6 linked regions of the Homo sapiens genome follow. The protein of the gene in region 6 purifies or fractionates together with the protein of the main gene of each other region. This does not show direct contact. Each region holds a gene or a part of one and is shown on either strand. Other genes may lie near its edges.

Region 1 (4,886 bases), on a different chromosome or scaffold from region 6:
GCATAGTCTTCTGTACTAGGACTCTGGACTCTGTCCCCATGGCATAGTAGCCATGGGGACAGAAGAGTCTCAAGCCCTGGGAGCACCTGAGAGAGAACGAGGGGCAAGGAGGGTACATACCAGTCACTCCCCATTGCCACCCATCCTCCTGGACAGATGACCAGGAGGCATCCTCGGCAATGATGTGGTGAGCCAGGCAGAAGCCTTGAGTTCCAATTCCAAACTATCTTTGTAATGCTTTCTGTAGCTCTACTACCTTCCTGCCTGCAAAATGGGCAGCAAACCACTCCCTGTCTTACCGTAGCATGTCACCAAGCGTGGATTTGCAATCCCAAAAATGATGCTAGGTGGATACATGGACATAGGATTAAGTAACCTTCCCTTTTAATTCTCTTTCAATCCTGATTATGCCAAGGACTCAGTCTCTGGTTGCTGCTAATGTGTCTTTTATACTTCTCTAGACTTGATAATCTCTTTAACAAAGCAAGGTCAGCCCTCAGTCTCAGCCTTGGCAGGTAACACAGCATCTAGCTAGAATTCAGTAATACTGGTTTTCACATATATTTTTACCAGTACCTTCTATTTATAGCACACAACCTTGGTTTTCTATTTATCACTGTGATATAAAACTTCCCTTCTGAGTAAAAAATGAGTTGACTTAAAGGAAAATATTAAGTAATGGCACAAGTAGTATATGAATATGACAAAAATTCTAATGGCGACACATGGTAGGATGCAGATATGGCAGAAATCAAAAAGGTGATACAAGAATGACTGAGGTTTGAGAAACAGTGTTAGAGGTCTGCTAAGCGGAGATAGGAAGATGATGCTGGTGTGAATCTTGTGGGAAAATTACCCTGTGTATCAACACAATGTATTATTACTATGACACCAGCAGTATAGAGAGGAGAACCCAGCGGTCCAGGGCTCCTTGCGGCTGTCAGGGACACTGTCTTCCTCAACCTGCCCTCTGCAGGCTCCTGGAGAGCTCGGGCTCGGGCTCCCAGCTCAGGCCTGGTCCCAGACCCAGCCCAGGCTCTATGCAGCTGAGGTTGGAAAAGGAGTCACCTTAATATCCACTTCAACCTCTTCCTGGGCCGACTTCTCATCGCTCGTATCCACATCCCCAAAGGTTAGAGTCCCATTGCGGCCGATTTTCACCTGCTTCTTGTAGGTGTAGTAGAACTCCACGCACTGGGCCACGGTCTTGGTCTGGATCTGGTTTGAAGTCAAAACTGAGGTCAGAACCCTCTGGTTTGGCTCATCTGCCTGTGGAGAATCCAGCCTTTCTCGTCCCTGCATCTTTCCCTTAACTTCAAGCCAAAATGAAACCCAGCCAACCCAGGCAATACAAGCATTTTTCCAATGCCTGCTCTGCAACAAACCACTGATCAATTAATCAATGCTTCAGCACTATTTAAAATAAGTAAATAAATAAAAAAAGCTATAAAGGACAATGTCGGAACCACTCGGGAGATGGCAATATGGATTGCATATCAGAGGGCATTACTGTATTTTTTTTTCTTTTTTTTGGAGACAGAGTCTCGCTCTGTCACTCAGGCTGGAGTGCAGTGACGCGATTTTGGCTCACTGCAACCTCCGCCTCCCAGGTTCAAATAATTCTCGTGCCTCAGCTTCCTGAGTAGCTGGGATTACAGGTGTGTGCCACCACAACCAGCTAGTTTTTTTTAAATATTTTTAGTAGACATGGGGTTTTGCCATGTTGGCCAGCCTGGTCTCAAACTCCTGGCCTCAGGAGTGATCCGTCTGCCTCTGCCTCCCAAAGTGCTGGAATCACAGGCGTGAGCTACCTCGCCTGGCCTGAATTATTTTATCAGGTTAAATTTCGTGGGCGTGCTAATGGTACTGTGGTTTTGTAGAATATCTTGGTTTTTAGGAGATACGTGCTGAAAGGTTTTAGTCATGTGACAGGATGACTGTAACTTACTTTTAATGATTAGCTGAATCAGAGAACAAGAGAGAGCTGTATATGTGTGTGTCTATGTTTAGACATAGAGAAAGAGAAAGCAAATATAGCCAATGTTAACGATTGCTAAATCTAAGTCCGGGGTGGATGGGTGTTCATTCTACTGTTCTTTCCATTTTCCTCTAAGTTTGAAATTTTTCAAACTGAAAAGTTGAGGGAAAAGGTCTGGGCACCATCTACATCCAAAGCCAGCCCTGACCTGGCAACACAGACGCTTTTCATTAATCCAGGCAAACAATTTCATTTCTCTCCAGGGAGCAGTGGCTGAGAAGTGAGCATACAGAAATGTCACAGTGTCCCCTGTCGGGGGAGGAACTCAAGGGAAACTCACAAGAAAGCCCTGGAAAACCTGAGGAGGAAGCGAAAGGCCTAAGTCTTCCTCCTGACTCTGCTACCACACAGCTATTCGAGCTTAGGCAAGTCACTCACTTTTCTAATTTCAGTTTTTTCATGTGTAAATAGCAAATGGGGTTAAGTAAGACTAGATGATCTCCAGGGACCTGCCTCTCAAGCTCTGAAATTCTAGCTCTCCCATTGCATAAATCTATTTGGCCACTGGGTTTAGTTTTTGGGCAACTTTCCCACACCCAGAGGCTGTTTCCTCTGACACCACCACACAGGCTCGCACATTGCTCAGCCACCGCTGGGCTGGGAGCTCCTGTCCAGAGAGGCCAGGGGTCAGTGTGGGCCCTTTGTGTCTGAGGAGGAAACAGACATGTTTCATCTCACAGAAATGGCCAAGTCACACATGTATTAATTAGGCCATTTACACATTTACTGTCAATTCTCTCTGACCCTTTGTTTGACTGACTAAAGGTCTGCTCATTTCATTAGGCATTAGGGGCGCCTCCGTGAATTTCACGGGCGTGTACTTCCCGTCAGTATTGCCCAATCAGGGAATAGCGTGTTACTAAAACACAGCAAAGGACTCCTCACAACAGGGCCCTTGTAGGGGAATTCATCATCAGCACTTTGTCTAGTCCCCAGGGCTGTTCCCAATACAATCTACAATCCCAAGAGGAAAGGGCATGCTCTTTTTAAAAACTCTTTTCCCTTGGCAGTCCACACAATTCTCTCTCCCCACAGCCCAGATTTTGTGAGACAGGGCTGGAAAGATGCAATTCCTTGGATTAGCAAAGCATCTGCTTTTCCAGAAGAATATGGAGAGAGGACAAGATAAATCTAGGGAATGTGGGCTTGAACAGCTGAGTTACTGGAAGGCAACTCTGGGTCAAAGGAAGTGGGCAGAGGCCCCCAGGTCAGCTCCGCAGGCACTTGCTGGCTCTCAGTGGCCTTCACCCCAGGGTGCCCTCCCCCTGCATCTTCCTCTGGGGAATGGCTCACCTCTACTTGCCACCCTCCTCCGCATCTTCCTCCTGCCTATTTTAAGTCTGATGCCCACTTAGGCCTCCTTCTGGATTGAGACCCCAGAGCTTGGCCACCCTACCCTGAAGTGAGGAAAGGATGCTTAGAACCAAAAGGGAAAAGAGACCTATCTTTCTCTTTCTTGTATTGTTTAGGAAATTCTCTCTGAGGCTACTCAGTAGCATTGACCTGACTGCTTTTTAAGAGGGATTGGTCACTGGCAGAGGGAGCCCCAAAGTCACACAGGCAGCTCCTGGCCCTCATTTGCCCTGAAACAGAGCCCAGCTCACCAGCTTCTGCACCAGGAAGAAATCCTTCTTGTAGATGGCAATGCCTTTGTTGAACAGCTTCCTCTCGGCCATCTTCCACTGGTCAGAGCCTATGGGGCAAAGAGGCAGCCAGGGAGTGAGGTGGGCAGGGCCCTGGCCACTGCAGGGCAATTTTGACAAGCAAAAAAGTGTGAGGCCATCCGCCCATGGTTTCTGCAGGCATCAGAGCCGGCTCCTCGTCCCACTTCCATGTGCCTCACAGCCTCGCTCCCTTGCTTGTGAAATGGAAACTAATATCACCTAGCTCACCAGCTGTGGTGAGGATTAAATAAGATAATGCATGTGAAACCCTTGGTGCTCTGCCTGGTGCAGATGAAATGTAGCACTAACATGCATGGAAAACATTGGCTGTTAGGATTATGTGACTCGGTCCATGTCCTTCTTAAAGTGACCAGAACAGGACATGCACTCCTGGGGCTAAGTTCCAGGTACCTGATGCCAATCTGGATGGCTCTCCATGGGTTCCTGTCCTTGTGGCCTGGGCTTTTTTGCCTGGATGGTCTCCCACCTGCCCACTCCCTTCTCCCCTCCCCTCCAGGGCACAGGAAACCCCTGGAGAGCTACCCCAGCTTTGGTGGCAGTTCCCTCACTCTGACTCTTGGCTTATCTACCCTCCTCCTCCCGCCCCCACCCAGGGCTGTGACTCAGCACTGAGCAGGGCCCCATGGATGCTGGAGACCTCTTGAGGCTCCAGGCACCATGCCCACCGCAGCCAGGCCCACCTGTGTAGTGATAAGTTGCCAGCGGATGGTTGTGGGGCCGCAGGGGCTTCTTCAGCAGCAGCTTATTCAGCGTTTCCTGGAGGGGAAGTGAGGGAAGGGTCAGGGCACTGACAGGGGTGTCGGTGGTGGACGGAGCATTCTAGGCCCTGATAAAATCCCGAGTAGGGTGGACACTTACTCTTGCCCCCTTAACTGCTGAGAGATAAGGGGTCCACTGGGGTGGTGAGATCACAGGGGGTGGGGCTGCCCAGAAAACAGACCTCAGGTCCTCTTAAGAGAGTCCATGGCCCCAAGGGAGGCAGCACTGCTGGAGAAGGCTCTCAGCAACCATCCAGTCTGAGTCCACTGACCCAGAATCAGGGATGGGAATGGACAGGAGGACACTGCACAGCAAAACCCGGGGTCTGAAACTAGGGCTCCCTTGGGTCAAGCCCCTACAGCCCCTTCCTTAGTCAGACCCTCCTACTGGCCTCAAATGTGCAT
Region 2 (4,886 bases), on a different chromosome or scaffold from region 6:
GCAGTGGCACAATCTCAACTCACTGCATCCTCTACCTCCCAGGCTCAAGCAATCCTCCCACCTCAGCCTCTGTAACGGGACCATACGCGCGCACTACCATGCCCAGCATTTTTCTGTAGCGTCAGGGATTTTGCCGTGTTGTCCAGGCTGATCTGGAACTCCTGGGCTCAAGCAATCCCTGCCTTGGTCTCCCAAAGTGCTAGGATTACAGGCGTGAGCCACGGCTCCCTGCCTAACTTCTGCTTTTAAATTCTAATTTTGGATCCTAAATCTTAGAATTAGGTAAAGGTTTTACTCCAGAGTTTATAACCTTTTTGTGTTATTTTTGTTAAATGTGTGTTTTGAAGCTGGGCAGATAAAATACAATTCTTAGTAATTCCTTACAAACCAAAGTTTATTATGCCTGAGCTAAAACAAGCTTTAACTACAAATATGTATTAAATAGAGGTTCATATATAGGCATTCAGAGGGCTTGCTAGCACTCTTAATTTTTGGACTTTATGCCGTATAGTAATTGTCTAAAATTATTTTCCTTTCTTATGTATTTTAGGTATTTACTTATGGGATGTAGAAGGCAGAAAATATTTTGACTTCCTGAGTTCTTACAGTGCTGTCAACCAAGGGCATTGTCACCCCAAGATTGTGAATGCTCTGAAGAGTCAAGTGGACAAATTGACCTTAACATCTAGAGCTTTCTATAATAACGTACTTGGTGAATATGAGGAGTATATTACTAAACTTTTCAACTACCACAAAGTTCTTCCTATGAATACAGGTAAAACATTTCCTTTTTTTGTTAAATACCCTCAAAAATAATCTTTTTATTTTTTGATAGTTTAACATTTTAAAAAAATCTGAACATTTTTCTCTCCTGATAGGAGTGGAGGCTGGAGAGACTGCCTGTAAACTAGCTCGTAAGTGGGGCTATACCGTGAAGGGCATTCAGAAATACAAAGCAAAGATTGTTTTTGCAGGTATGTGAAATTAAATATTAACTTCTATGATTGAAACATACAATATAATTTACTGTGGCCAGGCATGGTGGCTCATGCCTGTAATCCTAGCATTTTGGGAGGCCAAGGCAGGAGGAGTCTTTGAGCCCTGGAGTTCAAGACCAGCCTTCTGGGCAACATAGGGAGACCCTGTCTCTATTTAAAAAAAAAAAAAAAAAATATATATATATATATATATATATATACACACACACACACACACACACACACACACACACTTATATATTTTATATATAAAAAACATATATATATGTGTAAATTTACTGTTTTAATTTGCTGATGAAATACTTGTAATATGTTTTGCCTGGTACATGATACGTATTTGCTGAATGTTTCATAAAAATTTATGAGGGATTTCCTCTTCTTGGGATTATTTCTTCATATATGAGATTTTTCTTTCTGAACTCCATATTCCTCTCATTTGCCTGTCAGATTTTTTTCATAGCAGTTATCCAGTTAATTAGATAGTCTCACTGGTGGAGGGTTTGTGTTGGGTGCTGGGGTTGGGTGAAGTTAGTGTGGGGCCATGGCCTACATAGACTGTGGTTTGAATCTTGATATTGGAGGTCCTGTTGTGCCATGTTCCACTTAGAAGCTGTTGAAAAGAGGAGGCTTGGAGTTGCCCTTGTTAGGTTTCTGGGACTGGATGAAAGGAATAACTTGAATTTTGGTTAGGGAGACTAGCAATTAGTTGAGAAGATGTAGTTTGACTGTTGGGTTCTTTATATGATATTCAAATGAGAGGTTCTGACTTGTTTTTTAAGCTTTATTTTTTTAAAAAACAAGTATGTGTACATTTGTCACTATAATGGTCAAAGTTCATTCTTGTGATAGTTGAAATCATTAAATATTCTGCCTTGTGAACACATGCAGTTAAATGATAAACCCCATAACATAATAGAATCCAGAGTTCAACCGAAGGCCAGAGGTGATTGGTATTTGAGGGGACAGATTGGTATTCCCAAAGAAGAAATCTTAGCAAAACTCTGTAACTTGCCATTTAAAAATCTTGTGCTTTCGTTGTAGGACAACATAACTGTCTCTTGCAAACAAAAATGGTGTTTCTGGTGATTTTCATTCTTATAGACTGTGTCCAGTCTCTTTCTTAATAGCAAAGGGTGCAAAGATGTTTTCACCTGAGTATTGAAAGAAGCTGGTGAGTCAGTGGGGTGGAGAGACAGAGGAAGACTGTCCCTAACTGTAAGTCCCTTATACCTGCAGGGTAAGTGACTGAGGATGAGGTTCCTGAGGCTAGGCAGGGGAGAGCAAATAGGCTTATGGTCTAATCAGTGCATTTCTTCTTAAACAAACCTAGTCAAAATCAATGTGCTATTTTTTGTGGACAAGTGAAAGAAGAGATTACTTGTGGGTAAGGGATGCTGGTGAAAGAGGCTTTGCAAGAATAGTATTTAGAAACGAGATGAAGCCAAAATACGATAATCCAGCACTGATTAATGGAGTTGCTGCTGGCAGAAGTGGTGAGAAGATAAAAACATGATGTCACAAACTCCCAACCTCTCTGTTATTTTACATGGTGTCTTTCCTTCTTGAATGTCATCCTCTCTGAAATTATCTAGCTCACTTGCTTTACTGGTTTATGTCAGGTGTTTTCTCCCTGCTAGAAAGGAAGCTCCCTGAGGATAGGGATCTTGCCAGTTGTGATCATGATCTATTTCCCAACTTTTTTTTTTTTTTTTTTTGAGACAGAGTTTCACTCTTGTCACCTAGTCTGCAGTCTGGCTCACTGTAACCTCTGCCTCCAGGGTTCAAGTGATTCTCCTGCCTCAGCCTCCTGTGTAGCTGGGATTACAGGCGCCCACCACCACGCCCAGCTAATTTTTGTATTTTTAGTAGAGACAGGGTTTTGCCATGTTAACCAGGCTGGTCTTGAACTCCTGACCTCATGTGTTCTGCCTGCCTCGGCCTCCCAAAGTGCTGGGATTGCAGGCGTGAGCCACTGCACCCGGCTTCCCCAACATCTTTATTATTATTATTATTATTATTTTTATTTTTTGAGACAGTCTTGCTCTGTCACCCAGGCCGGAATGCAGTGGTGCGATCTCAGCTCACAGCAACCTCTGCTTCCTGGGTTCAAGCGATTCTTGTGTCTTAGCCTGCTGAGTAGCTGGGACTACAGGTGTGCACTACCATGCCTGGCTAATTTTTGTATTTTTAGTAGAGATGGGGTTTCACCATGTTGGCCAGGCTGGTCTTGAACTCCTGACCTCAGGCGATCTGCCCACCTTGGCCTCCCAAAGTGCAGGGATTACATAAGTGAGCCACTGTGCCTGGTCTATTCCCCAACATCTAAAACAATGCCTGACATAGTAGATCCTCAGTCACCTTTATTAATGGATAAAAAATATTCCAGCAGAAAGGGAGACGTCTGTCATTTAGCATCATAAAGGATTATAATATCAAGGAAGGTAAAATGGAAACGTGTTTGGATTGCTTGAGGATCTTTTCTCCAAATGAAATTGGAAATGCATTCTGTTGTTAGCCTGCAGTATTGGAGTTTTGAAAGGAAAACCGCTAATTGTCTATGAAGGATATTCTTTCTCATATCACTATCATAAATGCACCTTCTCTAGAAAACATGCATTCAAGACCTCAATTGTTAGGGCTTGGTTTTGGGTTGGGGATTATTGAAAGAAAAGTAAGTTATCTATCTTCAGGGGCTATATATTCCAGTCAAGAGGCTCAGTAGAGAGAAATGCCTAAAATAGGAATTACAAGGCCAGACTTAGTGGCCTTGTGTCATAGGAGCCATGGTGTTTAATATCAGACTTTGTTTTAACAATTGAAAGCCCACCGAAGGTGCACTAAAGCAAGCCCTTGATTTATTTTTTGAGTCAAACTTCTTGTGGTGTTTTGCGGGGATAGTGCTTATTGAATTTTGGGTTTCTTTGAAATAATCACTGTTTGTTTCCCCTTTGTAGCTGGGAACTTCTGGGGTAGGACGTTGTCTGCTATCTCCAGTTCCACAGACCCAACCAGTTACGATGGTTTTGGACCATTTATGCCGGGATTCGACATCATTCCCTATAATGATCTGCCCGCACTGGAGGTATTTCACTAGCATCATAGTGCTCAGCTCATTGGGAATAGAAATTAAAGCTGTTGAATATATGAATTAAAAGTACATTATATGACAGTAATGCAAATTTATCTCACTTAAGTTAAGCCACGATTTCAGACTTGTTCTCAGTAGCGATCAATTAGTTTCCAACACAGAGAAAGCTGAGTTCTGTGATCTACTCTGTACAGCCAGCCAACTACTTTAGATGTGTGTCCTTCATAACAGTTAACTTCGGTATACCTGCTTACTTACTAGGTAAAATTTCTGTTTTTAGCTAGCTTTTTAAAATTATGAAGTGGAAGACTTTTTAAGAAAGCCTTAAGTTGGCTTTAAAAGGCTATTTACTTTAGATTTAATTTAAGTAATTAATTTCTTTTTTTGAGACAGAGTCTCACTCTGTCACCTAGGCTGGAGCGCAGTGGCACAATCTCGTCTCACTGCAAACTCCGCTTCCTGGGTTCAAGTGATCCTCCTGCCTCAGCCTCCCAAGTAGCTGGAACCACAGGCACACACCACCACACCCAACTAACTTTTCTATTTTCTTTAGAGACATGGTTTCGCCACGTTGGCCAGGCTGGTCTCGAACACTTGACCTCAAGTGATCTGCCCACCTTGGCCTCCCAAGGTGCTGGGGTGACAGGCATGAGCCACTGTGCCCAGCCAGATTTAATTTAGGTACATTTGTGTATTAGAAAACAGGCTGGGCATGGTGGTACATGCCTGTAATCCCAGTGCTTTGGGAGGCCAGGGCTGGAGGAGCACTTTGTGTTCAGGAGTTCAAGACCAGCCTGGGC
Region 3 (4,886 bases), on a different chromosome or scaffold from region 6:
ATCTTTCCACACACACATGCCACATAACATTACATATATTTATACACTTAAGAGGCTACACCACTGCTCAACAAACAAATGAAGAATATCCGCAAGCAGCCTTCTTCCTGGTTCTTTAACTGCCTCCCTCCCCTGTTCTCCTTTATTTGTTAATAAAAATAACAAATTTTACAACTGAAATTTATATCCATAGTTCTGGCCTCTCATCTCAATTTCCATCCTGCATATCTGAGAGTTAAGAGAATAATTCCACTTGAATATCTAGCACCAACTTGACATATCCAAAGCTGAAATCATCTTCTCCAATGGGTTCCCCCATCTTCTGTCAACTGCTTTCATCAGGGAATTCCATTCTTTCCAGTCCCTTAGGCCTGAAACCTTAGTTTTCAGGCATTATAAAATGATAACATTATAGTCAACAAACCCATTCTTTCTTTTTTACCAAAATTTGCTCTTACACTTAAGTACAAATCTTCACCACTCCATGTTTGAACCTGACAGTTTTTCTTATTTGCCTGTCTTTTCCTGTACTGTGCCAACCACAATATATAAAATGGGTACATTTAGGAAAAAATTACCAAGTTAGAAATAATAGTATCTTAATGCAACTGGGAAAGAAAAGATCCTGCATCAACTTAAAAATTAACCAGAGTTGGCAAGGCACGGTGGCTCATGCCTGTAATCCCAGCACTTTGGGAGGCCAAGGTGGGCGGATCATGAGATCAGGAATTCGAAACCAGCCTGACCAACATGGTGGTCTCTACTAACCCCGGTCTCTACTAAAAATACAAAATTACAATAATTAATCCATTAATACAATACAAAAATTAGCCAGGTGTGGTGGCGCATGCCTGTAATCCCAGCTACTCAGGAGGCTGAGGCAGGAGAACCGCTTGAACCTGGGAGGCAGAGGTTGCAGTGAGCCGAGATTGTGCCACTGCACTCTAGCCTGGGCAACAGAGCAAGACTCTGTCTCGGAAAAAAAAAAAAATTTAACCAGAGTTGCTTCTTCTAATCATAATTCTACTGCAGTCTTGGGATGATAAAGAGTCTCCAAGGCTGTGTGCCCCAGTTGGAGTTCCCTAGTGAGGAACATTAAATACTGTTAATAAAAGGAATCTTTTAAAGCTTTTCTGAAGGAGTGTAATTGAAGCATTAAAATAGATGCAAAATGAGGGCCAGGTGCGATGGTTCACTCCTATTATCCCAGCACTTTGGGAGGCTGAGTTGGGTGAATCACCTGAGGCCAGGGGTTCAAGACCAGCCTGGCCAACATGGTGAAACACCGTCTCTACTAAAAATACAAAAATTAGCTGGGCATGGTGGCGTCTGCCTGTAATCCCAGGTACTTGGAGGCTGAGGCAGGAGAGCTGCTTGAACCCTAGAGGCGGAAGCTGCAGTGAGCCAAGATTGCACCACTGCACTCCAGCCTGGGCAACAGAGTGAGACCCTGTCTCAAAAAAAAAAAAAAAAGCAAAATGTAAATTAGGGAGGGCAATTTCCAAAATTAAATAACTCAAGTATAGCAAAAAAGTGATACTATGCCATAACTGTCTAACATTTTACACTTTCAAGTAACTTCTATATCCACTTTAATTTGTTTATAAATATAAATGGAAGCATCAGATAATCTAAATGTGACATGGGTATTTGCAAATCTCTCTATCCTAAAAGATGGAGACCTTTCAGCAGTGGGGTACTCCAATGTTGGTATCATCTGGGATCATGCACAAGAAGTCAGCATGAAGCAGGTAAATAGTTCCAGATTATGCCCCATAATCAAAAATACTTTCCGTGACCTCTACATTTTATTCCCAGGGGAAAAAACATTGAAGGGAATCCTTGCTCTTCCCGTAGTGGGCATTAATTTTTTTTTTTTTTTTTTTTGAGATGGCGTCTCCCTCTGTTGCCAGGCTGGACTGCAGTGGTGCAATCTCGGCTCACTGCAACCTCCAACTCCAGGATTCAAGTGATCCTCCTGCCTCAGCCTCTCAAGTAGCTGAGATTACAGGCACGTGCCACCATACCCAGCTAATTTTTGTATTTTTAGTAGAGATGGGGTTTCACCATGTTGGCCAGGATGACCTCAATCTCCTGACCTCGTGATCCGCTCACCTCGGCCTCCCAAAGTCCTGGGTTTACAGGCATGAGCCACCACGACCGGCCGCAATTAAATTTTTTTTTAAACCACATACTCTACTTTGGTGAGTGCACTGGTCCCCTATTCCCCACAACGCCCAGAGTAAACTTTTGAAATGCAAATCAGACCATATCAGTCCCCTGTTTAAGAACCTCCAATAGCTTCCCACTGCACAGAGAATAAAATCCAAAGTCCTTACTGTGGTCCACAAGGTCCTCCATGACATGGTTCTGGTCTCTCTCTGATCTCATCACCTACCACTCTCTCCCCATGGTCCAGCCATGCAGGCCTTCACTTCAGGCTCTTTTCCATCTCAGTGTCTTCATACAACTGTTCCCTCTGGCCTGAACTATTTTCCCCCTCTTCTCTACACATGGCTGGCTTCTGCTCATTCAATTCTCAAATCAAACATTACCTCCTCAAACCTTCTTAACCTTTTTTACGTTAGCAGCAATCACTTTTATCATATTATCCTACAATTTTTTCACAGCATTTACCACATTTTGAAAAAACTTGTATTTTTCCTTGTCTTCCTACCTAGACTATATGTGTGAGTATGCTGTTCATCCCTATATCCCCAGCACCTAGAAGAGTGCCTGGCACATAGTAAACACTCAATAAACATTTGCTTAATGAATGAATGATGTTTGGAATTATAAAGTGGCAAAGACAGGATTCACAGAAAATCAGTAAGTTGAAGGGTAAGAAAGAGGAGGAAACCCCTGTGTGGAAAGTTATTAAACAGAAAGCAAGCAGAGCTAACAACCTGAACCCAGAAGGAGTTTAACTTTTGCCATTTGTTAAAGGACCTGTCATTTTCACTCTGCAAATGAGCAGACACCCACAGATGCCTTTCAGACAGAAGGTGAATGCTTTACAGGCATAGATAGGAACTCTGTTTTCAGTGTTGGAGAGCTATAGACAGGTTCTAGAGGCCACAAGATAGCTGGTAAGACTTTATTGAGACGCTATGTTAAAACAAAAAGAACCTTACTTTCGCCAAAGGGTAGAAATGACCTTATTCAATTATTAATCTTTTCTTCAGTCAAACCAGTAAGACAGAAAAAAAAAAAAAAAAGATCAGATATGAAGGCAGGAACACTTCAGTCTCCAAATCATAAAGCCATTTGGGAGAGGAAGAAAACCAGGAGGGAGTAGTTAGTCTTCAGAAACTCATACTTTGCCAAGTAGCCTTCATGCTGACAAACCAATTATTTGTTAGACAGTATAGGGGTTCTTTTGCAATCAATAATGAAATACAGGAAGATCTCTGGGAACAAAATAGAACTGACAGACTGTAGAGATGACAAAGGATGAAGAAAGATTTAATCTTAAGTTCAAAGAAAATGAAGCAAATGAAAATAAAAATGAATTTTTAATTCCAGAAATAACTCCCCAATTTTTTATAAAATTGATAAAATCAAGACTTTTCCATTTATTATTATTTAAAAACAAAAAGAAGAAAATGCTGAGAGAGTTAAAAGTAGTTAACCCTAGGAGGAGGATACGGGGCAGGGAACTACCATTTATGCTATCTTTTCACTTATTCCTTTGATCAAATTAAGAATTAATTTTAAGAAGAGTAAACTATTTAATAAACAGTAATGCAGACTAACTCCAATCTTCCATATACCTTTTTTTTCATAAGGGAAGGCCTTTATTCATCCATCTCCATATACATTTTAACATATAATCCCTAGTATCAATGTTTTTATTATTTTATTTCTGATGAAAGTAAATGTATATACATAAAACATCAGTTAATCCTAGATTTCAATTAATGAATTACCAGTTAGCTGAATTTGTTCTTCATTAGAATTCTGGCATCCAGTCATTCCTATGCCTACATTAGTAGCAGAATGATGATTTGAATATACAATGTATATTGAATATCAACCCTTAGACTATATTGAACAGCAGGAAACCTTGACATACAGCAAGGGGAAACTCTTCTCATTACATGTTCCTGTTCCACATAAATAGGAGACAGTACAAAGAGCACTTCCTTAGACAACACAATTCCATAAATAAATAAAAGTTATGTTTTCAAAGAATATTTAAGAACCTAAGAACTTGCATATCATAAAATGGTATTTTTTTTTTGCCGGTTATAAAACGAAATATTATACAAAACACATTTTGTTGAAAAAAGTCTTAAAAAGTACCTACAAAGCATAAACAGTATTGGATTAATAGGTGATTTTTATTTTCTTTTTTCTAAATTTGCCTTCAATGAACATACATTACTTTCAGGGGAAAAAAGTTAAAGAAACTAAATCATTAACATAAAGGACAAATCTGAGAAAGTGTCAGAATACAAAGAAGTGGCATAGAGATGAAAACAATAACAGAAGATGATATGGAAGACAGAGAGATAAAATATAGGCCCGGCGCAGTGACTCATGCCTGTAATCCCAGGACTTTGGGAGGCGGAAGCGGGCAGATCACTTGAGGTTAGGAGTTTGAGACCAGCCCAGTCAACATGGTAAAACCCCATCTCTACTAAAAATATAAAAATTAGGCCAGGTGTGGTAGCTCACGCCTGTAAGCCCAGCACTTTGGGAGGCCGAGGTGGGCAGATCAACTGGGGTCAGGAGTTCAAGATCAGCCTGGCCAACATGGCAATACACTGTCTCTACTAAAAACACAAAAATTAGCTGGGCATTGTGGCCCATGCCTGTAATCCCAGCTATTCAGGAAGCTGAGGCAGGGAGAACTGCTTGAACCTGGGAGGTGGAGGTTGCAG
Region 4 (4,886 bases), on a different chromosome or scaffold from region 6:
CCAAGTTGGCGCCCCCCTCACTCTCCCCTCCTTGCCCAGTTCCCTGTCAGGTACCTTGCAGAGGCTTGGCGGCCCGCTGGAAGAAGTTCTGCTCATTGAACAAGCGCCCATCCTTGGCATCCTGGTGGGGGACAGGAGGGGCAGAAGGCTGTCACACTGAAGTCTCAGATAAGGGCCCCCAGTCCCCACTGGCAATTTGTTACTCCCTCAATGACCAGGCTCCTCATCAAGTCCCCACATCGGAGCCAAATTCCTCAGGTACTGCACACAAACACACATCAGAGACTGCGAGCTACCTTGCTGTACCCAGGTTCCTTTTCTTTCTCTTATGGTAAGAGCCACAGTGTTCCCTAGAATGTAGCCTTCAGCATAAAAACTACGTTTCCCAGCTTCCTTTGCAGTGAGGACTGACCACATGACCAAGTTCTGGCCAATGAGGATGTGAGCAGAAGAAATGTGGGCAACTTCCAGGTTATGCCCTTAGTGGGCTGGGACAGGCTCTACCTTTCCTCTTCTGTTCCAGCTGGCTGCAACGCAGATGTGATGGTGGAAGCTGAAGCAGCCACTACGGCCCAGGAGATGCAGGTTATGCGTTGAAAATGTTGGTGCAAAAAGAAGGAAACAGGGCCCCTTGTTTATAAAACCATCCTATCAGCTCTGGAAAACTGCCCCTGACTTTTAAATGAAAAAGCAATAAAACATCATCTTGCTTAAGCCACCATTAATATTAGGTATTTGTTAAAATAACACTAAATGGCCAGGTGTGGTGGCTTAGGCCTGTAATCCCAGCACTTTGGGAGGCTGAGGCAGGTGGATCACTTGAGGTTAGGAGTTCTAGACTAGCCTCGCCAACATGGTGAAACCCTGCCTCTACTAAAAATACGAAAATTAGCCAGGCATGGTGGTGCGTGCCTGTAATCCCAGCTACTCGGGAGGCTGAGGCAGGAGAATTGCTTGAACCTGGGAGGCGGAGGTTGCAGTGAGCCAAGACTGCACCTCCAGCCTGGGTGACAGAGTGAGATTTTGTAGCAAAAAAAAAAAAAAAAGCACCAAATATTTTAATTAAACACAACTCATGCAGCTGAGTTCTTAAGAGTATAGAGTCAAACAGATCTAGGTTCAAACCCCAGCTCTGCCATTCATTCATTCATTCTTCCTACAAAGCCTCCATTATATGCTGAGTATTATTCTGGGCATTGGGGATATAGCTGTGAACAAAGCAACCTGCGTGCTGGGTGCACCTGGGCAAGTGACTGAGTCTCCATTTCCTCATCTGTTAAATAGGAACATGGAAGCCATCCCATAGGCTTGCTGAAATAATTCAATGACATAGTAAACACACATACACACACACACACGCACACACAAAACCCCAAAGAAAACCAAAAGGCTGGGTGTGATGGCTCATGCCTATAATCCCAGCACTTTAGGAGGTGAAGGTGGGAGCCCAGGAGTTCCAGACCAACCTGGGCAACACAGGAAGACCCCATCTCTACCAGAAAAAAAAAAAAAAAAAAAAAAAAAAAAGCTGGACGTGGTGGTGCATGCCTGTGGTCCCAGCTACTTGGGAGGCTAAAGTGGAAGGATCACTTGAACCTAGGAGGCTGTGGCTGCAGTGAGCCTTGATTGCACCGCTGCACTCCAGCCTGGGTGACAGAGAGAGATCCTGTCTCAAACAAAAATCCAAAAGAATTAAATGACATAATGCTTGTGACACTCAGCCCAGGGACTGTCACATAATAGGTTCTCAATAAGCAGGTGCTGCTACTGGTCATTAGTGAGCCTGGCTCCCTGCCCCATCTTCTCCTCTTCTTGTCCTTTTCTCTTTTTGCGTCCTGGAGTCCTCCCCACGATGCTGGCGAAGCCCATAGTGACTGACGCGAGCGACGTGGGCACAGCCATGCAGGCCCTGAGCAATCTCATGTGGGGTATTCATGCCTGCCCCACTCCCCCAAGGGGGCAGCTCCTTCAGGGCAGGAATTGGGTCTGACCCATCTCTGCAGATGTCCCCAGCACTCAGTTCACAGGAGGTTGCAGGAAAGGCTTGGTGAATAAATGAATAAATGGATGGATGAACACCACTGGGCATTCAGCCCCTGACCTTTCGAATGCTTCAGAACAGAGCTGCCTTCCCAGTGGATGGGGAGGGTGAATGTCTTCTGGTTGGCCCAGTGCCCTGTGCTCCCCTCCCAGCCCACCCCTCTTCCCGATGGGACTGGGACATGACATGGCTCCCGCCAGACTGGGAGCCTCTCCAGGGCTGGGCCTGGGGCCAACTCATCATCACCAAGTTTTGAGCCTCAGGAAATGTTGATGAGGTCAGATGCACGAACAGAGAGCAAGGCTGTATTTCTAGGATGATGAGCATAATTACAGTAGTAATAACAGGAACAGCTCAGGTTGATGGGGTGCCTACTGTGCCAGACACACCTGAACCATGCAGAGAAGTGTTAAATGGGACACGGTAGCTGCCCTACTGGGAGGATTCAATGAAGCAGTGCTTATGAAACACAGCCCGGCTCAGGCAATGCCAGGCTCTCAAAGCAGGTGCTACCCACCACTAGTGAGCCCGGCTCCACAGCCCACGCTCTGACCCACTCTCATGGCCTCCACCTAGGGCGGAGGGAGGGCAACTGACCCAGCTGTCCCTGGTTTTCTGGGGTGTGAGACAATTCTGATAAACAAAAAGAAAATAAGAGTCACCTGTAATCCCAGCACCCAGGGATGATGGCGGGGCTATGAACCACCACGATGCCCTTCTGTTAGGCACCTCCTCTGTGTGGAAGGCGTGATTCACCCTCGTGGCCACTCTCCCTTTCTCTATTTGTTTCCTTTTAGCCCCAACCTCGAGTGCACATGTCCTGTCTGCTGAGACTCATGCTCGGCACCCGATGTGTGATTTCACTGAATCCTCAGCACAGGGACCCCATCTGCTGGGTTCTCTTTTGGACCCCACACCCAGCACGGTGATACACAGTAGGTGCTCGATACGAGCACGCTGCGAGGCCGGTGGTAGGGGGCAGATGGGCCACACCCTGTGGGTATTAGTGGCTCCATTTCACAGATGAGGAAACTGAGCTCTGAGGGGGATGGGCTTGCCCAGGTCACACAGCAGGGAAGCATCAGAGCCAGACTTGGGTGGATCCAACTGTGGGTTTCCAACACCCTGGGATGATGGAGAACTGGGCGCCTGCCCCGCCCACGGTCTTAATACTCCTTGCAGGTGGGGACCCTGGCCCCCGGCCGAGCTCTCCCAGCTGACAGACGGGCTCAGAAGTCAAGGATGTGTTTGTGAAAGTCCCTCCCCTCCAAGCTGCCCCCCACCTGCAGGGTCACTTACCAGTTTGAGTGAGAACTTTTGCTTCTGTGGTCCTGAGTCACAGGTGAGGGTGGAGGTGGGTGCAGCTGTGGGGGAACAAACAAGGGAGTGAGGTTATAACCACGCGGAAGGTCAGGGTCATCATCCCCAAACTTCCCAGCAATGAGAAGCGGCTCTGGTGCCCTGGTTCCAACAAGGTCAAGCGCACTCTTGGCTCTCACGACTTGCTGCTTCCTAGTTTTAAATAAGCTTCTTCTTCCTCTTTCTCTCTGTCACTATCCAGCCATGCAGGAAGGGCTAATGCAGCAGGCCTGAGACGGCTCTCCTGGCAAGGTCTGGGACCCTGGATTCCGGGAGGGCTCCCAGAATCCCCTAAGTGAGTGGGGCTCGCTGAGCCTAAACTGCTTGTGCAATCACTGTGGTTTCTGTGCAACACCTGCTTTCCTCTGGGGAACCTGGGATGCGGATACATGTCAGACAGAGGGGGCCACATGACTACTCCCCAATAACAGCCCCGAGCACTGAGCCTCTGAGGAACTTCCTGGTGGACAGTTCCCATGTACTGTCACAGCCTGTGGCTGGGCAATTAGGTGCGTCCTAGGCAGAGTGACTTCATCCAAGGCCACATCCCAGGGTGACCCAGGTCCAGTGACTGATTGAGGTGGACATAAAGGCCCAGCCTCTCCTGGCCCAACACGGACGCACGCTGAAGGACCACTTTTGCTCCAGAGCCCTGCAGGGTCGGCTGAGGCCATCACTGGGCTGCATCGCAGCCCACCTCCTGCTCCTTACCCCCTCCTTGGGTTCTGATCCCTGAGGCAGCTCCCCATAAGCACCCTGCATGCTTGTCCCCCGACAGAGCCTGCTCCAGTAGCCCTTACTGTTCATTTACAGACCTCACCACGTCTCTGGCCCTGTGCTAAGTGTGGGCTTCACATGCATGGTCCCATCTGACAGATGAGAAGAGGAGAGAGGCCAAGAAACGCCAGGCTGACCCAGGGTTCAAATCCCAGCTCCTCCATCTGCTCTCTGTATGACTTTGGGCCTCCATTTGCATGTCTGTAAGATGGGAGCAGTAAGGCCTACCCCGAGACTGGCTGCAAGGACTCAACAGGCTGGCAGGAGTAAGAGCAGCACCAGCGATGTGTGCAGCAAGAGTCTGCATCCCCCTTCACGCACACTGCTCAGTGAACCCACTCAGCCCAGAGCCCAGCACGGACCCTGGCACATCAGGATTGCTCCACAGGTGGTGGCCTTAAAATATCCCCATAACACCAGGGCTCCCCAGCCGGGGAGTGGCAGAGCTGGCTCAACCTGGGTCTAGCTAATCCCAAAGCCCATGAGTTGAGCTCTTGTCGCCCGCACACCTGACTCACGCTGGTGTCCCTCCTTCCTCTGTTCTCATCGTTCCCACTCTCCCTTCATCATCGAGGCTGGTATCGTCTAAGACACTGAGCTGAGGGATGGGGGGTGACAAAGTCACCCAGAAGCCATCCTTGCCCTCAAGAAGCTCCAGCTGGAACAGGGTTGGGAGCCAGCTCTACACGTTCAAGGCCAAGGGTGCTCT
Region 5 (4,886 bases), on a different chromosome or scaffold from region 6:
TTTGGGAGCTGACGCAACGGAGAGAGTCTGTGTGAGTGGCTCTCATGACTGTGTGCAGACCAGAGGCTGAGTCTGGAATATGACCTCATTCCACTCCCCAAGGTGTTCCTCCTGGCGGGAAGGAAGAGAAAGAAGAGTAAAACTTCCAATTACCTCATCTCTGTGGACCCAACAGACTTGTCTCGAGGAGGGGACAGCTATATCGGGAAACTGCGGTACTAGCATTCCCCCAGGAAGCAGGCGGGAGTGGGAGGGAGGGGCAGGGGCAAGCTGTCTGTAGAGGGCCTGAATCTTCCTGAAGGAGATCTAGGCCAGGGATGGATACTCTCCCAGGATCCTCTCTGATAATCACATCCAACTGGAGGCCTATGTCTATGCCAGCCTAGAGCCAGACTTGGAGATGGGAATCACACACCCGACCCCAAGCTGTTCCCAGGAGGTGGGTGCAGGCCCACCAAGAGTGATGGATCCAACCCCAGGGTGTCACTGATAACGCAGGCCACCATGGAAGAGTTGCCTTGGCTCCATGGTCAATGCCAAGGGACAGGGCTGAGAGTGAGCTCTTGAGGGAAGAGACACACAGCAATCTTGGGGGTGGGGGGCAGTGGTGAAGGGGCAGGAAGGCTCTGAGCCTAGGCCTCCAGGTGGGGGCAGTGGGGAGGTAGGGTTTGCTGAGGAACTGAGTACCAGATTTGGGGAGCATAAATAAAGATGAGAGGTCAGGAGCTAAAGCTGGAGATGGGGCTGGACTGAGACTTAGGCTGGCTGCGACAGAGGAGATCTCATCCTCTCTCCACGGGTGCTAAGCCTCTTCCACTGTCTTATCAGATGCCATTCTGTTTGCTCACCTCCCATGAGGAGAACTCCCATGTTCCCCCAGATAAATCTTCTGAAGAATCCTGATTGACCTCCCTGAATTGCTCTCACTGAACTGAAATGCACTTTGAGTCAACTCAGAGCAAGTCCAGGCCTTCTGCCCACGAAGTGTCTTCAAAGATGTGGATTCAGTGAGCAGTATGCCTCCCTGGGCCTGCTCCTGTTCCAGCCCAGAATGTTTTGCAGGCTCCTCATAGGACAGACGATGAGCTGTTCCCTGCTCTGGGGCAGAGGGTGCATGACTCTATACTGATTGTGCCTTTATTTCAGGTCCAACTTGATGGGCACCAAGTTCACTGTTTATGACAATGGAGTCAACCCTCAGAAGGCCTCATCCTCCACTTTGGAAAGTGGAACCTTACGTCAGGAGCTGGCAGCTGTGTGCTACGTGAGTCCTAGGTTCGGGGGTCTCTGATTTCCAAGGTAGATATGAAATCCAGGACTTGATGCCTGATCTAGGGGCTATCCCATCCATCTTAGTGGGTAGACAAGGCTGTGTGGAGAGGGGCTGTCCTCTGTGGAGTGTTCCTGGCCTAGGACAGGGGCTCTGGCTCTCTCCTCCTGACTTCAGAGCTCACACCACAGCCGGCCATCTGCTTGGGGAGCTCAGAAAACCAGGCCTGGCTCTCTGCAGTCCAGGCCAGGAGTCTCTTAGACAGAAGGAGACGGTCGCCCTGGGTTCTTGTCTGTGCATTTCCCAGATCATCCCTCTGGCATGCCAGGTTCTACATGGATTACACGGCACTTTGTCATCTCACTGAACGTTCAACCTAAGAGGTAGATCCTATTTTCTTTATAGATGAGGAAACTGAAGCTCAGCTGCAGATGTCACACAGCTCAAAAACGACCAAACTGGAATATAAATATAGGGGATTACTCTACCCCTTTGAACCTTTTTCTTCATTTTTAAAATCAGGGGTGGGTATCTCATCAACCTGGGCATGGGCACTTCTTGGAGGCCATCAGTAAGTAATCCACAGCTACTTTGTATGATCCTGTGGTGCCACCTGCTGACCAGTTTTGGGGAGGCAGCCTGAGTCTTCAAGTTCTTACTGAGCTCCAACTAAGCATATTGTTTGAGGCACTAAGGATATAGTAATGAACAGACATAAATGTATACCTTTATGGGACTTAAAGCCCTAGCAGGGCAGACAAGCTATGAAACAGATCTATCAGTGAAGTAAGTATGTTCTTTATAAACACTAAGAAGAAAAAGTAGGGGAGGGGAGATAAGAAATGTCAAGGTATGTGTGAGAATTTCAGAATGGCAGGGAGGGCGTCACTGAGGTAGCTCTTGAGTAAAGACCAGAAGGAAGTGAAAAACAGCAGTGTACGTGTCTAGGGGACACAGTGAGGACAAAAGTCCTGAATGCCTGGCATGAAGAAGGAATGGAGTGGATACCAGGCAGTAAATGGTGAGGAGAGGAAGGTCATGGGGCCACGTGCAGGTGAAGTCACATCTCCAGCTTTAACTTGGAGTGAGCTGGAGAGCCACTGGAGAGTTCTGAGCAGAGGAGAAAGATCATCTGACTTAATGTGCCTGAGCACTGGCTGCTGTGTTGAGAACAGATGGTGGGAAGGAGGAATAGGAGGGCCAACAACAGAAACCAGGAGTCCAGGCAAAGGCTGTTAGAATGATCTTGGTGAGAGAAGCTAGTGGTGAAAAGTGGTGGAAGTCTGGGTATAATTGGAAGGTGGAGCTGACAGAAACTGCTGATGGATTAGACGTAGGATGTAGAAGAGAGGACTCGAGTGTGACCAAGTAGTTTGCCGGAGCGAGTGGAAGAACAGCATTGCCGTGAGCAGAAGCAAGGATGACGCATAAGAGGAGCTAGTTCTGGCAGGGTAGAGACCCAGGGGCTCAGTTCTGGCCGTGTTAGGTTTAGAGGGATGTGTGTTAGACTTCGGAGTGGAGATGGTGGGAACTAGCTCTTCCTCTTTATTCCCGTCCCCCCCACCTTCTCCAGTAGGTAAATAGACGCCTCAGGTGGCCAGTGTTGCGTTCTCTTTCCCAGGAGACAAACGTCTTAGGCTTCAAGGGGCCTCGGAAGATGAGCGTGATTGTCCCAGGCATGAACATGGTTCATGAGAGAGTCTCTATCCGCCCCCGCAACGTGAGTGTCTACCCCTTCCTCCCCTCTTTCCCCATCATCCTAGTCTCTGCATGAGCTTCTAAGGGCAGAACTCCAGCTGATGTGTGTATGTGGAGGGGTACCATGTGAGAAAGCCCTGGAGGTCTAGGGAAATCCAAGGACCCCCATTCCCGGGATAGATCCCTTTCTGGGGTGGTCATGGTGCCAAAGGCCTGGGCCTGGCTCAGGTGAGGCTGCCCTCCCAGGAGCATGAGACACTGCTAGCACGCTGGCAGAATAAGAACACGGAGAGTATCATCGAGCTGCAAAACAAGACACCTGTCTGGAATGATGACACACAGTCCTATGTACTCAACTTCCATGGGCGCGTCACACAGGCCTCCGTGAAGAACTTCCAGATCATCCATGGCAATGACCGTGAGTGTTTCTGTCCCTACTCATTATGGTCCGTAGGATACCCAAGGCCCTTAGCGTAGGGTTCAGCCCACCTAGCCCTGCCTACACTGGCTAGAGTTTAAGAATGTGAGCTATACAGCTAAGGTTAGATGTATGGAACTTTCTAACCCTAATGACTGGGAGGTCCTGGAAGAACCTTCTTTGCAGCCCTGGTCCTAGATTCTGTGTATTCAACGGAGTCTCAGGCACGGGAACACCCTTTAAAAGGACTTTTCCTCTTTTCTGTCCCCTGGTGTTCACATGCATCTTACTTTGTCCTTTGCCATCTGCCACCTCTTTCCTGCCACTTCTCCCAATTGGCCTTTGTTTTACTTCCCTTTGTGATTCCCCTGGCATCTCTGCTTCTCACTTGTTCTTCCCTCATGTGGTTTGGGTGTCTGTCTATCCTTCCCTGGCTCTACCATTCCTGTCCTGTCCTTTTCTCTGTCTGTGCCTGTGCTTGGCCCCAGCGGACTACATCGTGATGCAGTTTGGCCGGGTAGCAGAGGATGTGTTCACCATGGATTACAACTACCCGCTGTGTGCACTGCAGGCCTTTGCCATTGCCCTGTCCAGCTTCGACAGCAAGCTGGCGTGCGAGTAGAGGCCTCTTCGTGCCCTTTGGGGTTGCCCAGCCTGGAGCGGAGCTTGCCTGCCTGCCTGTGGAGACAGCCCTGCCTATCCTCTGTATATAGGCCTTCCGCCAGATGAAGCTTTGGCCCTCAGTGGGCTCCCTGGCCCAGCCAGCCAGGAACTGGCTCCTTTGCCTCTGCTACTGAGGCAGGGGAGTAGTGGAGAGCGGGTGGGTGGGTGTGAAGGGATGAGAATAATTCTTTCCATGCCACGAGATCAACACACACTCCCACCCTTGGGGTAGTAGTGTGTTGTAGTCGTACTTACCAAGCTGAGCAACCTCTTCAGCTGGGAAGGCCGCAAGAGGCATAGAGGGAGAGGAAGCACACTGCAGGGCTGCTGTGGCCCAGTCGTCCGCTCAGCCAAGGAGTCAGATGGCAATGGGTACTCCAGCAGGTAGGGGCACAGTGAATGTGTGTATGTATGAAGGCCACATCAACTTTATGTAGCAAAGGGCTTGGTGGCCAAGCCTGGCCCTTAAACAACTGCAGAAAGCCCTTCAACTTCAGAAGGCCTCACTCAAGCCTGAGAGAAGTTGGGAGGGTGGTGGGGACAGGTAAGTGGCAGGACCCTGTCAGGATTGCAGGTGCCTGGCTTGCTGTGGCTATGGGAATCAGCTGGTGGCTAGGTTTCTAGCGCATTTGATTTCTCCAGGTTTGCTGTGTCTCACAGAGGCAGTAGGAACCCAGCTCTCAGGGCTGTCTTGGTGGATGGGCCCTGCAAGACACAGGCTCAGCATGCAGAAGTGCATGAACAGGGTCCCTGGATCAGGGTTGTTCTGGGAGTCCTGTCAGCTTCCCCAGGAGCTCTCTGCTGAGCAGCCCAGCACAACCCCCAGGAAACACAAAT
Region 6 (4,886 bases):
TCACCTGAAATAGTTATTGTAAGGAGCAAAGATAAAAAATGAATGTAAGAGGCCAAAGAAAGTTCCTTCCATTGTGTAGATACTCAATAAATGGTACCCATCTACTGTTTGTGTCAGAAAAGCATTCCTTCAATTAATATTTGCAAATCCTCCCCATGTATAAGCCTCTATGCTAGGTGACGTATCAAAGACAAGCAGAGAGAAATCAGCAAACATATGTACAGCAAAGGAAATAAAACAGAGACATAAAGATAAAGTGATGGCATAAGACAGGTACCAAAGTTGTAGGCTAATCACCAGTATGATGCTCTCATGCAAATCTGTGGCTGCTGAGTCTGGCTGTTAACTTCAACTGCACTATGGGGCAAAAGCCCATTTCTCCAAAACATGGGAAGCTATGCAGCAGTATTTCCTCAGGATGTTAATAATGCTCAAAGGGAAAAACAGTGGTAGTAAACAAATTCATTCAATAAATATTTGCTTAGCACCTACTATGTGCCAGAAACTTTTCTTGGTCCTGGAGATGCAAGAGTGAATACAGTAATCATGGCTGCCTATCACTGCAGACAAAATTTCTGCCCTCATTTCCTCAATTGTGAATTCAGGAATCAAAACTAGCTTTAATATTAGTGGAAAAATAGAGAAAAATGTATTTTCAAAAAGTAATGTCCAGCTTAGCCACCTGTAAAATATATTTTCTCCTTAATTCCTCATATAAGTATCAAGAAAACTTTATTTCTAATATATTAAATTGGTGCAAATATATTAGGTTTTTGCCAATACTTTCAATGGCAAAAACTGCAATTATTTTTGCACCAACCTAATAGTTATTTTAGGGGAAGGAACTTAAGGGATTTCTGTATGTGTGTGCCTGTGTGTGTGTGTATGTGTCTCTCTGTGTGTTTTAAAGTTCTTGAAAGTCTCTTACCTATATGCAGTAATAATTTCTTTATTATTGGATATATATGTGTATTTTTATTTTATTTTTATTTTTATTTTTTACTCATAGGTTGCTTGGAAGTGGTTTTAGTGAGAATGTGCCGTGCCTTCAACCCATTAAACAACACTGTTCTGTTTGAAGGAAAATATGGAGGAATGCAAATGTTCAAAGCCTTAGGTAAGTTTCCCTTTGATGAGGACACAATTTTATTAGCCACCATCAGTTTCTCCACTTAGATTGAAATTGGTAAATGAAATGCCTTGATTCTTTGATGTGAACCAGTATCTCATTATTCGATAAGCGATGGACCAGGTGAGCTTCTAATTCAGGCAAGCCTCTCCTGATCTTGTAACTGTGGCCTCCAATACAAAAGAAAGAGAGAACTGAGGACCCTCCTGAGAACAACCCTATTGAGACATCGTTCATTCAGAAATAAATGGAGGCCCAGCGTGGTGGCTCATGCGTATAATCCTAGAACTTTGGGAGGCCAAGGGGCGCAGATCACTTGAGCCCCAGAGTTCAAGACCAGCATGGGCAACATGGCCAAACCCCATCTCTACAAAAAGTACAAAAATTAGCTGGGCATCACCAGGTGTGGTGGCTCATGCCTGTAATCCCAGCACTTTGGGAGGCTGAGGCAGGTGGATCTCTTGAGGTCAGGAGTTCTAGACCAGCCTGGCCAACATGGTGAAAGCCAGTCTCTTGCAAAAATACAAAAATTAGCCACGCATGGTGGCTGACGCCTGTAATCCCAGCTACTCAGGAGGCTGAGGCAAGAGAATCGCTTGAATGTGGGAGGTGGAGGTTGCAGTGAGCTGAGATAGTTCCACTGCACTCCAGCTTGGGCAACAGAGCAAGACTCCATCTCAAATAAATAAAATAAATAAATAAAATTAGCTGGGCATGGTGACACACACCTGTAGTCCCAGCTACTTGGGAGGCTGAGGCAGGAAGATTGCTTGACCCTGGGAGATTGAGGCTACAGTGAGTCATCTTCACACCACTGCACTACAGCCTGGGTGACAAAGCGAGACCCTGTTAAAAAAAAAAAAGGAAAGAAATAAGAAATAACCGGAGGCTGATGCTAAAAGAGTAAAAGAGCTGGGCTGAATTATAGATCATTCTTTGTGAAATCAGCTTTTTTTTTTCAACTTTATTGCATATTGCATAGACCCCTGGTCATCCATGGTGGTGACCTCTTGCGTTTCTTATGTCAATTTATCATCATGAGTTAAGATACTTAATTAAATGAGGAGCTCCTCTACTTGTTTCTCACCCACAGAAGTTAATTCACAAAGTTCTGGGAGCACAGAGTTCATGCCAACCTGTCCACAGTGATCCCAGACCATTCCTGTGGGAAGGCACTAACAGAGTCAGTCTTTGTTTGGAAGTGTTATATATCATCACATCCAGTCATCAGTGCATGGCATGGTAGGAAGAACATTAGCAAAGATGGGCTGATGCCAGGAAAGGTTTTAACGATTGATAGTGCCATTTGTTCCATATCCTGCCCATGGACACCAAAGAAGGCCACTGCCCTTTCACCTCTTGTGCTGTTAGTTGATATGGCAGCCAACAACAAGTCCATCGGGGCTGGCAATGTTTCCCTTCTACAGTTGATACACATCCATGTCATCTCCAAGGCTAGATTTTCAAGAAAGGAGGAAAAGCCTTGGCAAGCAACCTCAGTATATTTCCAGCTTCATCAAATAAACATTCACCAGGGATCAGTGTAGAGATGCAACATTATTTTGCCAAAATACGCAACAGCTAAGCAACTGACCTGTGAGTCATTCATTAGAAGGTAATAATAAATAAACTCTAGCTCCTCAGTGAAATTTCCAAGGAAATTGCGAAACTGAAGTGCATCTCATCTCTGTTCCATTAGATATTTCTAACGTCTCAGTTTAAAAGTCCAGAATACCCTACATTGCTAGCTTCAAGTGTTACGAAGACTGACAATCCTCAGCCCCTGTATGTAATGTTTTAGGTTTTCTATGAATACTATCTCTATTGTAAAGGATCCCCAAATCACTTATTTTATATTCTTTAATGTGAAATCATTTCAAATTTATAAGGATGTAATCATATTATGGATTGCCAGACAGATGTGACACCACTCACACACCAAGTCTACTTGCTTGCCATTGGTAGGTAATGTTAACTTGGATTGCCTGGCCAAGATGTTGCCCAATTTTCTCATTCTTTGATTAGTATCAAATCACTTTTTATAATTAGAAACTTAAAAAAATATCTTTTCTAGAAGTCTAGTATGCACCTCCTTGGATAGCTTATTGATTATGAGATTTTTCTTACTCTTGCCCCATTTCAAGTTCAAGTATTTTTATTCCATTTTTCTTCTTCCTTTATAGGTTCTGATGACCTAGTGAATGAAGCATTTGACTTTGCAAAGAATTTGTGTTCCTTGCAGCTGACCGAGGAGGAGATCGCTTTGTTCTCATCTGCTGTTCTGATATCTCCAGGTAGGGCAGTCTCAGTTCTCTTACCTTTTTAAAAAACTTGTTTTACTATTTTTAACACTGATGACACCTGCCTAAGCCAAAGTGTTCAGGAGAAACTTTAACAGAGCTATATTTTCTTTACCAAGTTTTTGATATTTTTGGACAGTGAAAAGGGAAGTAGCCTCAAGTTTATTAAAATGACCAATTTTGGCCCGAAAGCAAGAGTAGAGCATAGGTTAGGGGTTATTCCAGATTCAGATACGCAGAATCATTCCTTAGCAAATAAAGGAAGACAAATAGTGGCCTGAGTTACAGCCAAGTTCTATTTTGACTTTAAGAATAAAGTACATAGAAAATAAATGTCCAGTTGGATGAGACACAGTAGAAATGTACCTAAATGAAAGCTCCAGAATGGGGACCTACATAAGTAAAAGGAACACTTTCTACTCTTTAAACACCTCTTGTGTTGGCATCTTTGCCCAAATTCATGTTGAGGTGCTCACTTCAGACAAATGCTGGTGCCTATTTTCTTAGCAATACATTTGACCTTGAACAATGCAGGGGTCAGAGCATTAACTCCCTGCATGCAGTCAAAAATCTGCATGTAACTTCTGACTCCGAAAAATTTCACTACCAATAGCTTACTGTTGACCGGAAGCCTCGCTGATCACATAAACAGTCGATTGACACATACTTTGCATGTTAAATGTATTGTATACTGTATTCTTACAATAAAGTAAGCTAGAGAAAAGAAAATGGTACTAAGAAAATTATAAGCAAGAGGAAACAGATTTCCTGTTCATTAAGTGGAAGTGGATCATCATAAAGGTCTTCATCATGGTCGTCTTCATGCTGAGTAGGCTGAGGAGAAGGAGGAAGAGGAGGGTTTGGTCTCGCAGTCCCAGGGTGGCAGAAACAGAAGGAAAATCTTCATATAACTTGACCTACACAGTTCAAACCTATGTTGTAGAAGGGTCACCTGTATCAGGAGTTTTTAAAAGGAGGTGAGGACAGCAGAGGGGAAAATGACTCATACTGAAGACTGCCCAGTAGAAGAGGAAAAACTTCAGACATGGAGGTGGACATTCTGGTGCCAGCTCTGTGACCAAGTATCTGTGTGATATTAAACATTTGACCCCTCAGAGCCCTAGTTTCCTCATCTATAAAATAAGAGGGATGGACTCCATAATAACTAAGACCTCTACTAGCTCTAAAATGCACTGAAATGCCAAGTTCTTAAAGAATTCAAGGTGTGGCAATATTTATGGATCAACTAGAACTGTAGTGAGTAAAATATTTTTTTAAAGTATATACTAGGCCTGGCATGGTGGCTCACGCCTGTAATCCCAACACTTCGGGAGGCCGAGGCCAGCGGATCACCTGAGGTCAGGAGTTTGAGAGCAGCCTGGCTAACATGGTGAAACCCCATCTCTACCAAAAATACAAAAACTAGCTGGATATGGTGGCAGATGCCTGTAATTCCA

Evidence for each region.
Region 1: the proteins of RORB (region 6) and MIDEAS purify together in Homo sapiens (affinity purification with mass spectrometry, with the first as the bait; one large-scale study listed by BioGRID). This does not show direct contact.
Region 2: the proteins of RORB (region 6) and OAT purify together in Homo sapiens (affinity purification with mass spectrometry, with the first as the bait; one large-scale study listed by BioGRID). This does not show direct contact.
Region 3: the proteins of RORB (region 6) and UBN2 purify together in Homo sapiens (affinity purification with mass spectrometry, with the first as the bait; one large-scale study listed by BioGRID). This does not show direct contact.
Region 4: the proteins of RORB (region 6) and VRK3 purify together in Homo sapiens (affinity purification with mass spectrometry, with the first as the bait; one large-scale study listed by BioGRID). This does not show direct contact.
Region 5: the proteins of RORB (region 6) and TUB purify together in Homo sapiens (affinity purification with mass spectrometry, with the first as the bait; one large-scale study listed by BioGRID). This does not show direct contact.

What each region holds. Positions count from the first base shown.
Region 1 is NC_000014.9:73,721,630-73,726,515, forward strand, and holds part of MIDEAS (mitotic deacetylase-associated SANT domain protein), read right to left. Parts: intron 4,480-4,886; coding exon 4,404-4,479; intron 3,732-4,403; coding exon 3,643-3,731; intron 1,219-3,642; coding exon 1,069-1,218; intron 1-1,068.
Region 2 is NC_000010.11:124,404,630-124,409,515, reverse strand, and holds part of OAT (ornithine aminotransferase, mitochondrial isoform 1 precursor), read left to right. Parts: intron 1-550; coding exon 551-775; intron 776-878; coding exon 879-974; intron 975-2,099; exon of another isoform or gene 2,100-2,213; intron 2,214-3,952; coding exon 3,953-4,080; intron 4,081-4,886. UniProt on the Homo sapiens protein: Catalyzes the reversible interconversion of L-ornithine and 2-oxoglutarate to L-glutamate semialdehyde and L-glutamate.
Region 3 is NC_000007.14:139,286,002-139,290,887, reverse strand, and holds part of UBN2 (ubinuclein-2), read right to left. Parts: intron 1-4,886.
Region 4 is NC_000019.10:49,997,450-50,002,335, forward strand, and holds part of VRK3 (serine/threonine-protein kinase VRK3), read right to left. Parts: intron 3,406-4,886; coding exon 3,341-3,405; intron 122-3,340; coding exon 55-121; intron 1-54. UniProt on the Homo sapiens protein: Plays a role in the regulation of the cell cycle by phosphorylating the nuclear envelope protein barrier-to-autointegration factor/BAF that is required for disassembly and reassembly, respectively, of the nuclear envelope during mitosis.
Region 5 is NC_000011.10:8,097,612-8,102,497, forward strand, and holds part of TUB (tubby protein homolog), read left to right. Parts: exon of another isoform or gene 1-102; coding exon 103-215; exon of another isoform or gene 216-1,146; coding exon 1,147-1,264; exon of another isoform or gene 1,265-1,728; intron 1,729-2,891; coding exon 2,892-2,990; intron 2,991-3,214; coding exon 3,215-3,386; intron 3,387-3,874; coding exon 3,875-4,008; 3' UTR 4,009-4,886. UniProt on the Homo sapiens protein: Functions in signal transduction from heterotrimeric G protein-coupled receptors. Binds to membranes containing phosphatidylinositol 4,5-bisphosphate. Can bind DNA (in vitro). May contribute to the regulation of transcription in the nucleus.
Region 6 is NC_000009.12:74,664,479-74,669,364, forward strand, and holds part of RORB (nuclear receptor ROR-beta), read left to right. Parts: intron 1-1,009; coding exon 1,010-1,117; intron 1,118-3,312; coding exon 3,313-3,423; intron 3,424-4,886. UniProt on the Homo sapiens protein: Nuclear receptor that binds DNA as a monomer to ROR response elements (RORE) containing a single core motif half-site 5'-AGGTCA-3' preceded by a short A-T-rich sequence.